Linked DNA regions of Homo sapiens: all the other regions are reported to be linked to region 2. Evidence: microRNA targets listed by miRTarBase, many of them from high-throughput screens and not tested one by one. Region 2 holds a microRNA gene; each other region holds the end of a gene's coding sequence. Distances are between the middles of the regions.

Region 1 (3,125 bases), not on the chromosome of region 2:
TAAACTGTTAAAAAAAAAAATGAGGGCTGATTTTTAGCCATGTAAAATTTTATAACTAGAAAGAAATGTAATTTGTAGGAAAATTATAATTTATAAAAATTAGTTTTATTTTATAACCCAACAGATTGACTTTACAAAAATAACAACTTTAATAAAGTTATCAGAATTTTTTAGATTTTATGGGTTATTTTTACTGCTTGCAGAGCCATTAGACACAGGTTTGAGTGTTGCATCATGAACATGGATAAATATGCCTAGGTGTGTGTGTGTGTGTATATTGCTTATATACACATAAAAAAACCTTTGTGAATGTCTAATAAGATTTTCCAGGTGTTTATAATGGTTACTAAACTGATAACATTTTCACTTCTAGGTTCATGTCAATCTACTTTTAATGGAAGCACGAATGCAAGCTGAACTTCTTTATGCTCTTCGTGCCATAACTCGGCATTTGACCTGAAGTATCACCCAAGGAAAATGTCATACATGTGTAAAGACCTTTCACATAAGATAAACATTGAAGCTATTTGTGATATAGCATCAAAAATTATTCAGTTCTCTAGTGTCAAAGTTTAGCCGTTTGTTTTTTTTTTTTTGTTTTTTGCGGCTGTAATGTGCAATGATGTGTTTTATTTTCCTTGATGCTTAACATTACTAACAATTGCAAAAATAATACTGAGGAGCACTACTTTGCATTGTTTGTAGTTGGAGTTTTGGATACTGATCATAAATCATGAATCTGGCGTATTAATGCTTAACTTCAGCGCCTTTGGGTTGTGTGTATGTGTATTTTTTCTCCCCCCACCCCGCCCTTTTTTTTTTAAGAATAAGGACAAGTGCTTACAATCTGCTCAAGCAATTGTTTTTCAGATATTGGAATTCAGCAAAGAGTGACCTCTCTGGCCATTCTAAAACTTTAATGTTGTGTCCTAAATCTGGTGGAGGAAAAGCATGCGCTGTTGAACCAAGCTGCTCACTGGACACATATTTGTGTCCCCAGGAGATTATTTGTCAGGCACTGTTTTTTATTTGTTTGTTTGTTCATTTATTGTTGTTTTACTGCTATTGGCGATAACATGAAATGTGATACAGCTATTGCCCATAATTTAATGTGAAATTAATCATGATGAATTCTATAGCATGCTACTGAAATGCCAAATTCAGCTATTTTCTTTCTCTTCTAAAATGGAAGTTTCAGTTTTCCATATCAGATGTATATAAGTGGAATTATAACACAATCCTATCACTGACAGTAATCCTCAGTCACCTTAAATAATCAGTGCTCACAGTGCTGCTTACAGTTCATTTAGTTGGCACATATAAACCTGTACCCACACAAGACTGACCAAAAATTTTCTTTGCACATTTTTCCTTTCTCATAGTTTTTTTCTATATTTCGTTAAGCAAAGGAAGGTTAATATGCCTATTTTTCCTGTTAGGCTTTTAGAAATTATTTTCCATGACTTTTGTTCTTATAATAGGTTAGACAGTTTATTTTTCAAAGGTAAAAATTGTGTTTCTATGCATTAATGTGATTGAACTACAAAAACAGAGTGCAATATGTTCAAAAAATACTCAACTAAACTTTCCCCCTGTCATATCACTGCAAAAGTGTCCTTTTAAACAGAGCCATAAAGAAATTTTTTTCAAATTTCTTTATTGCACAGGCTTTTTTCAGTTTTACCTTTCTGGGATTGAACAATGTTCCTTTCATAATGCCAAAGCATTCCCTTCCCCAGAAAAATCTCCTTGGACAACTGGTTTAAAAACGTTATTAAGTCATAGGGGAGGAATAAGCGGCCAAAAAGTCACATTTTTGCATTGGTTTACGTTGCTTGATTAGACTATCTTCAGAGAGCACATTATGTGTTTATAGCTTTAATTTGTATTATGTCAATGAACCAGTGAAGTGCCTAAAGAGATGCTTACAACTATCCAGTAGGACACAACTGCACTGCTTTTTAAACACTTTTTGGTTAGTTAAGGGTGACTTGAATTGTACACATACATGCTAATTTTTGAAAACTTATCCATTTTTCATAGTAAATAATATAGATAAAATTTTCTGTTAGAGTTCCCGCAAATATTTCATTTTAGACTTACTTGTGATATAAGATTTAACTTTTCTTTTGTGAAAGAATCGTGAACTAGTGTTTCATGAAATCATTTTCCTCTTCCATTTATCATCCTCCTCTGGTACAATATATTGGGTTGCTTTCTTTTAGATTTTGTTCCAGATAGGAAAACAAATATGACTGTATACTTATTAACATAAGGTAGTTCTGCATTTTTGGATTCCAGGATCCTGTTTGAAATCTTCCATGTGAGGAAAAAATTACTAATATTTTTAAAGACAGGGTGGTTTATTTAAAGAGATTATTCAGAGAACTTGTGCCATATCTCGTCTGTTTTATTGCATATGCCATATGTTAACTTTTATTCAATATTACATTATGTAGATATGTAATACAAAGAAAATATTTAGGAGAATGGCAAAACACAAATGGCAACATAAATGTCCATTTGACTTACCTAACTTCACAACTTTCAAGTTGAGGATGTCATTTATTCTTGAATTTGTTTTTTTACTAGATGCTTTCAATTAATAGCCCTATATTTTTGTGCAGGCGAACTGTATAACAGGATAAAAAATGATTTGTATGTATTGAAAAGGAGGAGAAATTCTCACAGAACACCATATGAGCTTTAGACCAAAAGGGGAAACAAGGTTTAAGTAACTAAAATGGCCACTTAGTTTGTGTTTATTTTTTTCCCTGGAAATGTAAGTAGTTGGAGTTTAGGCTATGGAAATATTAGTGCCTTTAATAGATCTCTTTCCTTGCAAAGTTTCTTTTTAGCTCAGCATTGATCTATCTTATCAATAGGAAAATAAGTTGACTTGGAACTATAAACAAAAACAACACCATATATTTATGAACCTCAGTGAACCAGCCTAGAAAAATTGACTTCTGCAGGTGCTAAAGCACCTACTAATACGCAGCATGCACAGCATTTCAGGTTGTGAATACCATTTTACAACGAGTTTGCTGTTAACTCTCTTTATCCAATGCAAACTTGAAATTCTGATGCGGTTTTCCAGGGTGGTATTTTTTCAGAGTATTGAA
Region 2 (3,125 bases):
AGCGGTTACAGTGAGCTGAGATTGTGCCACTACACTCCAGCCTGGGCAACAGAGCAAGACTCCATCTCAAAAAAAAAGAGTGGTCCAAAAGTGGGAATAAACTAGCAATGGAGATGGCAACTTAGAAGATTAAGTGGGCGGGTACCATGGCTCACACCTGTAATCCCAGCACTTTTGGAGGCCAAGGCAGGCAGATCACCTAAGGTCAGGAGTTTGAGACCAGCCTGACCAACATGGAGAAAGCCCATCTCTACTAAAAATACAAAATTAGCTGGGCGTGGTGGTGCATGCCTGTAATCCCAGCTACTGGGGAGGCTGAGGCAGGAGAATCACTTGAACCAGGGAGGTGGAGGTTGTGGTGAGCCGAGATCGCACTGTTGCACTCCAGCCTGGGCAACAAGAATGAAACTTCATCTCAAAAAAAAAAAAAAAAAGATTAACTAGTAGTACAGGTAAGGAATAATGAGAGCTGGGGGTGAGGACTGGGGTGGTAAAGTCTTTTTAGTCTAATAATATTCAAGATCTACTTTGCTCAGAAGAGACAAGGGAAAACTGGGAAATTGATTTTGTACCACAGGTCACACATTTGCTTTCATCATACAAGGTTATGCTTTTTCTCTCAAATGAGTTGTACATATTATGTAGCATCTATTTACTTCTAAAAAATTGAGGAATGGAGGGCCGGATGCGGTGGCTCATGCCTGTAATCCCAGCACTTTGGGAGGCCGAGGCAGACAGATCACTTGAGGTCCAGAGTTTGAGACCAGCCTGGCCAACATGGCAAAACGCCATCTCTACTAAAAATACAAAAAATTAGCCGGGCATGGTGGCAGGCGCCTGTGATCCCAACTACTCAGGAGGCTGAGGCAGGACAGTTGCTTGAACCCGGGGGACGGAGGTTGCAGTGAGCCGAGATCACGCCATCGCACTCCATCCTGGGTGACAGAGTGAGACTCCATCTCAAAAAAAAAAAATTGAGGAATGAATGTGGGAAAGAGAAAGAACAAGTAAAAGGAATTTTCATTTTCCAGCCCCTAATTGTTCTGTCTTTCTCCCAGTGTCTCCTTTCCTCTTGGGCCGGGCACTTTGGGCTGCCAGTCGGTTCACTGTTGCTATGTCCCCTGAACTGATCCAGCAGTTCCTACAGGCAACAGTTAGTGGTCTTCACGAGACACAGCCCCCATCAGTTCGAATTTCTGCAGTGAGAGCCATCTGGGGGTGAGTATGCTACCCTAGCGTGATAATTAAGGGAAAGTTGCTCAGGTTAGATATAACAAATCACAGTTTTCCAGTGTATTATGTTGCTTGGAAATCCCTGCTAATGATATCCTTCAGGGTGAATGTTGGAAGGACAGGGAAAGAAACCATGCTAGAGACATGGCTTTTGTGAGTCCAGAAGATGTCCTGTTCCTTTCTGCTCCTCTTCCTCTTTAAATTCGCTCCAGTTCTGGAATCATCTAGGCAACTCCCTTTCTCTCAATGGTGAAGAACCTGAGGTTTGGAGAGAAAAATGTTTTGCACAGGGTTGCACAATTGATGAATGATAGAAGCAGGATTAGAGTCCACATCATTTTGTTGGTTGATTATATTAGAAACCAAATCTGGGATAATGTGACCTAGAAACACTGCTTATTTTTTCCCAGTTTTACCTATCTTTTTTAAGGCTAGTGTTACTAATGGATCAAAAGTCATTTATTTATATTCCTACGCAGACTAGAAGGACCATTGTTGTTTTAAGGAATATCTTAGGCTCAAACTTAAACATCTCAACTGAATCCTATAACTACCAACACAAAATTTATTTTCCATGTGCCTGCCCTGTCTTATCTTTTGAGGCAGAGGAGTATCTTTTGAGATGCCGTGTGTTATATGTCATTAGAAAGCATTCAAGAACTGCCTGTTTTAATTAAATGGTTAATGTTATGACCATAAACACCGTCCCATCTTTTTCTGCTTCAATCTAGGTGAAGCAGATCTTTGGCTCTAAAATAATTAGAAGTATCATCTTAAGAGGCAAACTAAGTATAGCTTTTTCAGAAAGCTCTAACACCATTTTAAATGTCTGAGAAGAGAGAGCCCTAAGCTGCTTAAGGCATGAATGTTATTTTAAGGGTTTTTCTGAGTTTGTACCTGTGGTCACTGCCTGTTTAGCTTCTGACCTTAGTGAAACTTGATTTCATTGGAGAATTATCCACTTTGTGTTGTGATTTTATGGAAATGTTTGCAGCTGCAAGCTGTGAGAGGAGTTTGGTATGAATGTGAAAGTACTTTGGGTAAAATAAGCCCATTACTTTCCAGAGTGTTTTAGGTAGACAGCAGTACCTATCAGGCATACTTACCAACATTGATTCTCTCTGGGGGAGATTAGAGTACAAAGAACTTTCATTCTCTGTTATATATATAAAATATTTTGTTTGTTTGTTTGTTTCAACAAGTTTATATTACTTTTATAATCAGAAGAACTGTGAAGAAAACTTTTATTTTTAATGTTCATATCTCTTGGACCACATGGGTAGTGGTTTAATAGTTTTCTTGAGAGATGTAACAGATATCTCTGTAGGATGACAAAAGCTGTGGATATGTGGGCCAGAGAAATGGACACTCATATATGTTTACAAAATTTTATATTCATTGTCAAACACTGGATTCCTTGAAGCCTATCTGTGGATCCCGATTAAGAACTGTCCTATGAATGGATCATTAGCTATCTTTCTTTCAGTCAAGAGTTTCCCTTTGGTCATTTCCTATTTAGTTTACCAGCCAATTGCAGACTGGCTTATGTCCGTGTCACACTATTGGAACTATTTTTCTTTTTTTTTTTTTTTTTTCTTTTCTGAGACGGAGTCTTGCTGTCTGTCGCCCAGGCTGGAGTGCAGTGGCGCGATCTCGGCTCACCACAACCTCTGCCTCCTGGGTTCAAGCAATTCTCCTGCTTCAGCCTCCCCAGCAGCTGGGATTACAGGCATGTGCCACCACACCCAGCTAATTTTGTATTTTTAGTAGAGACAGGGTTTTTCCATGTTGGTCAGGCTGGTTTCAAACTCCTGACCTCGGGTGATCCGCTCGCCCCCACCTCCCAAAGTGCTGGGATTACAGACATGAGCCACCGCGCCCGGCCTGCAGCT
Region 3 (3,125 bases), 27 Mb from region 2:
TTCTTAAGAGCACTTTTACAACAGTCAAGATACGGAATCAACCTACGTGGTCTAGAAGCAAAGTGATAAAGGGATAAAGTGGATAAATGGCTTAAGAAAATGTGGTGTATACACATCATGGAATACTATTTGGCCATAAAAAAGGAAACCCTGCCATTTGCAACATGGGTGAATTTACAGGACATTTATATTAAGTGAAATAAGCCAGGAACAGGACAAATATCACATGATCTCACTTATATGTGGAATCAAAATGTTGATTTATAGAATTAGAGAGTAGAACGGTGGTTAGCAGGGGCTGAGACAAGAGGATTTGGGGAAATTCTAGTCAGAGGGTACAGAGTCCCTGCTATACAAGAATAAACTCAAGGTCTATTGCACAGCATGGTGACTTCAGCTGATAACCGTGTACTGTACGCAGTTGGCCCTCTGTATCTGACTGTCCCACATATGTGCAGAGGGAGGGCTGACTGCAGGGTACTTGAGTATCTGCAGATTTTGGTATCCATGAGGGGGTCCTGGAACCAATCCCCCTTAGGCACAGAGGGATGACTGTATTTGAAATTGCTGAGTGTAGATTTCAAATATTCTCACCACCAAAAAAAACATGAGATGGATACATTAATCTGTCACTCCACAATGTACATAGATATCAAAACATCACACTGTGCCCCATAAATATATAATTTTCTTAAATAGAAAGAGGTTGTGATTGACAGGGTGGGATGTTGCTGGTCAGCTAGGTTAGGTGAGGATGGTGAAGCCACTGTCGGACCTGGTGATGTGGAGACACTGATGTTGTGGGAGACTCTGCCATCAGGACCTGTCCGGGCAAGCATCACAGGTGTGCAGGGCAGGGGCAGGGATGCTCAGGGATGACAGCAGACTGCAGCAGGCGGAGACAGTGAGAAAGACAAACTGGAGGTCTCAGGGTCGGGATGTTGTTGGCGTGCTGACAAAGATTCTCTACTTGGCCAAACTCTGGCCAGGCTCTGGAATCTTCTCCTAGGGCCCTCTTTGCCCTTTCTTATGAAATCCAGTTTTAGCAAGAACCCTAATTTGGTTAACCATAATATCTGACCACCCTCAATGGTACCTGACTGGGTTCCTCTCTGACCGTTTGCAGCCAATGTCTGATCGCCCTGCCTGCCTGCAGCAAGGACTCTGTGAGGTGGGTTTAGCCAGAGCCCCCTCAGCCCTGATGTCTCCTCACAGTCATTCCCACCCATGGACCCTATACTGCTCCTCGCTCCTCCAACCCCTGCCCTGCTACGTCGGGGTGGAGCCCCATCTCCCCCCAGGCCCCAAGGAAAGGGTCCCACACCCATCTCAATGGTCCCAATCAAAGTCCTCCTCACCATGCTTTAGCACGTGTCACGAGGAAGTTTCCTTTGACACTGGAGGGTGGCCAGGGCAGGGGGAAGAGGCCAGGTGGACACACGGAGACGAAGCAAACGAGCTGACACAAACCCACTTTATTCAGCATTGAGCCAGCCCACACGCTGGGCAGGTCAAACTCACAGACATCGCACCAAGGGCCGGGGACTCAGAAGGGCTGAAAGGCTTCATCTGGAAATGGGCACCGCTCACAAGCCCGGCTATCCCCAAATCTCAACAACTGTCTGCATCTATGTCCCCGACTTTGCAATCCTGTCCCCAGTGCTGAGTTTCTGTCGACTAATTTATCTACACACAAGGATGCTGCAGGCAACTGAGCTACTGCTACAAGCTTTGCAAAATTCAACTACTAAAGGAAATGGGAGGAGGGAAAGAGCTAGAGATAACAGCAAGATGAGACACGATGGCAGGGCCTGGAGATGCTAAATGGGGTTAGCCACCTGCCAGCCCCCTCACCCAGGGAAACAGAGAAAGAGGCTTCCTTCTGCGGAGGCAGGTGGAGCACAGGGAGGGCTCCTGGGAGGCACAGGAGTGGGGTGGGGGCCAGGAAGGGGGAGGTGGACAGAGCGACTTGGATAAGGCTGGGCCGGGCCCACGCCCACCTCAAGAGGGGGGCCGCCTCCTCAGGAGGCATCAAGGTGCAATCCAGTCTTCCTTTCTCTCCCTGAAGACCTGAGTTCCAGCCTTCACAGAGCGTCATGCGCATTCTTCTTTCTGGATGCTAACCCCAAATCCGACACTCAATGGTGCACCTCAGGTACCTGCCAAGGATCTGTGGGCCCACATGGAAGGTGCAGGGTCTGGGTCCCTGGATGACGAGGTGAGGGGCAGATGGGTGACCAGGGAAGGGCATGACCCAGAGCTGCCGGGACTCATGGAGGATGGGCTGTGGCTAGGACTTCAGGAAGGGACGGGCACAGGTGGGAAGGGTCCTCAGGTCCAGCCTCTACCGGGAGGTGTTTGCAGCCCCCAAAACACGCCTCGGGGTGAAGGATAAATGGACATTGTTGAAACACGCAACTATGTAGATGGACCCAAGGCCAGGCGCCTGCCACGCTTCCCTGGCAGCCACACGCTGACACTTCCCATGGAGATGAGGATCCATCCTCCTGCCTCCAGCTCTGGGACTGCCACGGGTTGGCGCCATCACTGCATGGGAGGGGAGAGGGAAAGACAGAGAGACAAAAAGAGAAAGAGACACACAGAGTCAGAGACAGAGGCAAAAGGAGAGAGCGAAAGAGAGAGCGCACATGAGACAGCGCATGAGGTACTGTCCTGAGCACAACAAACCCAGGGCCTGGCCCAGACTTCCGTCTCCCCAGGGCCAAAGCCTTGTCACCTATGGCTGGCACGGGCAACTGAACCGTTCAGGGCCATCTGGGTTGCTGCAGGGTCTGGGGTTCAGGCCAGGCCCTGGGCAGAGGCAGAAGAAAAGCCCTGAGGTTGGGTTTCTTGGCTGCTTCTGCCTTCAGGACCCCAGGGCGAGGCAGGAGCCTTCCATGCTCGGGCACTCGGGATGCCAAGTGCCCTCCTTTGTGAAGGTCAGGGACACCTCAGACCCTCCTCAACTTAAAACCCCTTCCCATCACCTTCCCTGACCACCCACCCATTCCCGAAATTCAGCCCTGCAAGGCCACGGCAGTGGGAGTCAGGCTGGGCTTTTAAGCCTTGACTTCGGGCAATGGTCCCCCAATGGCTCGCTGCTGCCTGCGTCCACCCTGGCCCGA
Region 4 (3,125 bases), not on the chromosome of region 2:
AAATGTAGAACTTTAAGATTAAAAGAGCTCCCTGGAAGGACAATGAGGCATATGGAGCAGAAGGGAAAGCAGGGAAACGGCTGAGATAGTTTAATTACACCAACTCTACTATGCAGCATCCCTTTATCAAAAGGAAAAATATAAAGTCTATAAAAAATATTTTAGTATTGCAAACTGCTGCAATAATTTATTGTAGGCAAATGGTAGCTATAAAGAGGGTCCTTGACCCCTAAAAGAAAAGAAAAAGTACAGCAAGTTTCTAATTAGTAGAACTAACTAGTTGTTTTTTTGTTGGGAGAGCGGTATAGGAAAGGAGAATACATTTTCTCCCATCTCAGAAAGATTTTTAAAAATGCAGTTTGCTTTTGTGTAGGTGGCTAAAATATCTGATGACTAACCACTGCAAATGAAATTTACGGAGACAAAGGATAAGTGTGACAAAAAAGCTAAGTGTGGAATATAGATGCTAGTTAGTCAAAAAGTGTAAAAGGGACCTGAGAGGAGGACAACTTTTTTGTAGATTCATCTAATCAATCTTGTATTTTCAAATCTAGTCAATATACCAAAGTCGACTCCAAACCATGTTGGCAGGAAAGCATATTCTACATCCCTTCTATCTTTATTCCATTTTCTATCCCCATATTATGGAGAAATGGCAAATCTGCAACACTCTGAAAAGAAACAATAGCGCATTTGAGACTGGTGATTGTAGGTGTCTCACTCTCTGTTCCCTGGCATCCCAAATGCTGACACTAGTTGGTATAAAGTAAGCCTCTTTCAGAAATGACATTTTGTTACTCCTCTTTTTGGGAAAAAAGAATTCTTTGAAAAAATTGATAAGCCATGTTTGTGAAACACAAACTGTTCTTTTTTTTTTTTCCAGCAAAACGTCATTCTTTCCAAGAGCCATCATGCATTTCTGACAATAAACAATGAATAGGGTAAGCCTTCGATTCTAGCTTCTGAGGCACACAGGATAGGAATTACTCTTTACCTGAAGATGAGCCAAAATAGGATTTGGGGCTTCTGGCGGTATGACCTTGTACAAAAACACTACCTTTTCTCTCCAGTGAACAGCAATAAGCAATCTATTCCCCAACACAACCTCTATCCCAAGGAAATTGTGATGCCCAGAATTTTAGGTGAAAGCCAAAGCAATTATTATATAGGATTATTAACTTTGGCTATTGAAGTTTTTCCTCTTCAGAAGTGTTACTAAAGGGGAAACAGAGCAGTTTTCTTTGACTTAAAATTTTAGGACTCATAGACTTTGTTCCTTCACTAACAGCAGTGTCCTTCACTAACAGGGAGCTGGAATGAACTGATAAAGCAAAGCAAGAAACAAAAAGCAAGGAGCCAGAGATGGGCCCCAAGGGAAATGTAAGGAAATGGTAGGGACAAAAAAAAAGGAAAAGAAACAAATTCACAAGAAACAATCATCTATCTGTAATTTAGATTCTGAACAACCCTCCTCACCCTCTCAAAATTCTTAAGTTTCAACACTGTAAAAATCTCAAAGAGCATACTAGTTACCATGAACCTAACATTCTTCCCTAAAAAGGCTTCCAAAAAAGCACTAGGCTATTGTAGTGATTTTGTTAGTGCTGAGGACCAGCTTTCTTTAAAAGCCACTGGAGAGCTATGATTTCAGAGGCTGGCTGTGCTTCTTCAACCCTATGTCTTGCCTTCAAAGTACCTGTTATGGAAGGGATCCCATGTCAAAATAATCTAATCTCTCTCTCCCAGCCCCACAAAATATAGCAACAAAGACTCCAAAAAAAAAAAATCAGACTTCCTGTTAATAAATAAGGAATCTCAGGTTCCACAACACAAAAACACACATGTTCAAAGTGCAAATTTCTGCCATTAGCCTGGGACTTTTCTCATCGTCTCACTGATACAGAGCCCTGTCTTACAGTCAAAGAGACTGTAGAGGGCAGCCCCCTCCCTATTGGGAGCCTGCTTCCAAGCAAGTGAGCACCATTGAGAGCCATATGGAGGGTTGGGAGGGGGACTGAGATGCTGGGATCAAAGAAGGGGGAGGTGGTCCCCATATATCCTTCCTTTCTGAAACCCAGGGGGGAATAAAGGAAGAGGGGATGAGAGATGTGTGCTGTTTTAACAGCTCACCCTGCTAAGGGGCCCTAAAGTGCCAAGTCAAGCTGCCAGCCTCCAGAGATTAGAATTCTATGGTATTTGAAGATAAGTGTGCCGCAGGGGGTAGGAGCCAGAACCATAGGGCAGCAGTAGAGGAGGAGAAGGGATTTAGAAGACAGTAATATATGATTAAAAGTTAAAAGCTGATCCAGAGCACATCAGAGTTACAGGTTGGAAAGGGGGATCTGCCGATGAGCAGGAAGTCTGCTGATGGCTGGAACCGAGTATGAGAATAACCCTCACTTTAAGAGCTGCTGCTGCTTCTTTTTTGTCTACCTTTCTGGTAAAGACAACATCAATTTTATAAGGGGAGCAACAGAGGGAGAACAGGGGATGGGGAGGTGGAGGGTGTATGTATGTGTGTGCTGTGATCCACAATGGAAAGAGCAGGCCCTTCAGTTATTTCACTAGATTTTAAATGCTTTAGATTTTTTTTTTGTCCTTTTTAACTTTTAAATACAAAGTCTGAGCTGTCCCATGCCCCAAGTCTTCCTGTCCACTAAGGTCCGGCAGAGTCTGAATCTTCAATCAGAACCTCTGTGGTAGCACCGAGTATATCTGAGTTCATAACCAGCCCTTCAGTGCCTCCACTGCTGCCGCTTCCCACAAAGATCTTCCCATCAGCCATCAGGCTCACCCGTTCCGTCCCACTGCAGTATGACTTTGACATCCCTTCAGCTTCTAACAGTAGGCACTCTCCAGAGGTTGAGTTTCCCAAGGGCTCAGGAAGAAGAGGAAGACCCTGACCATCTGAAGGCTGCGTCAGGGACTCTGGGTTAGTGCCCAAGATATCTGTGCTGGTGATGAGGGCGCCTGCATTGGCAGCCAGAGCTTCTGCAATCAGCACCTCAGGGTGGCTTTTTGCCTTGTGTGCCACTACGCTGTCCTTCTTCTCAAATTTTTTGCCACAGATATTGCAAGAAAACTGGTAGAAGGAGTCTGCATCATGTTTCTTCATGTGCCAATTA

The links. The annotated mature microRNA hsa-miR-6739-5p reads UGGGAAAGAGAAAGAACAAGUA and lies in region 2 at 989-1,010, shown strand. An mRNA with a match to its seed (bases 2 to 7 or 8) in the 3' UTR can be bound and repressed. Matches are read on the target gene's strand: a 7mer-m8 pairs with bases 2 to 8, a 7mer-A1 pairs with bases 2 to 7 and ends in A, and an 8mer does both.
Region 1: miRTarBase lists SESN3 as a target of hsa-miR-6739-5p. Seed matches in the 3' UTR shown: 7mer-m8 at 1,585-1,591.
Region 3: the mRNA of RNF187 is a reported target of hsa-miR-6739-5p. Seed matches in the 3' UTR shown: 7mer-m8 at 1,766-1,772.
Region 4: the mRNA of ZFP91 is a reported target of hsa-miR-6739-5p. Seed matches in the 3' UTR shown: 7mer-A1 at 808-814 and 7mer-m8 at 63-69.

The regions. Positions count from the first base shown.
Region 1 is chr11:95,170,590-95,173,714 of GRCh38, reverse strand. SESN3 (sestrin 3) reads left to right here. Exons shown (of 10, transcript NM_144665.4): 10 at 374-3,125. The coding sequence ends at 460. Among named protein-coding and RNA genes, the nearest start is that of LNCRNA-IUR, 22 kb to the right of the region's middle.
Region 2 is chr1:201,862,390-201,865,514 of GRCh38, forward strand. It overlaps MIR6739 (microRNA 6739), which reads left to right and starts at 984; the gene lies at 984-1,058. IPO9 (importin 9) reads left to right here. Exons shown (of 24, transcript NM_018085.5): 14 at 1,059-1,218.
Region 3 is chr1:228,493,305-228,496,429 of GRCh38, reverse strand. RNF187 (ring finger protein 187) reads right to left here. Exons shown (of 4, transcript NM_001010858.3): 4 at 242-2,547. The coding sequence ends at 2,545. Among named protein-coding and RNA genes, the nearest start is that of RNF187, 7.5 kb to the right of the region's middle. RefSeq lists an enhancer at 2,611-3,125.
Region 4 is chr11:58,617,238-58,620,362 of GRCh38, reverse strand. It overlaps ZFP91 (ZFP91 zinc finger protein, atypical E3 ubiquitin ligase), which reads right to left. Exons shown (of 11, transcript NM_053023.5): 11 at 1-3,125. The coding sequence ends at 2,657. It overlaps ZFP91-CNTF (ZFP91-CNTF readthrough (NMD candidate)), which reads right to left. Exons shown (of 13, transcript NR_024091.1): 11 at 2,795-3,125. Among named protein-coding and RNA genes, the nearest start is that of CNTF, 3.9 kb to the left of the region's middle.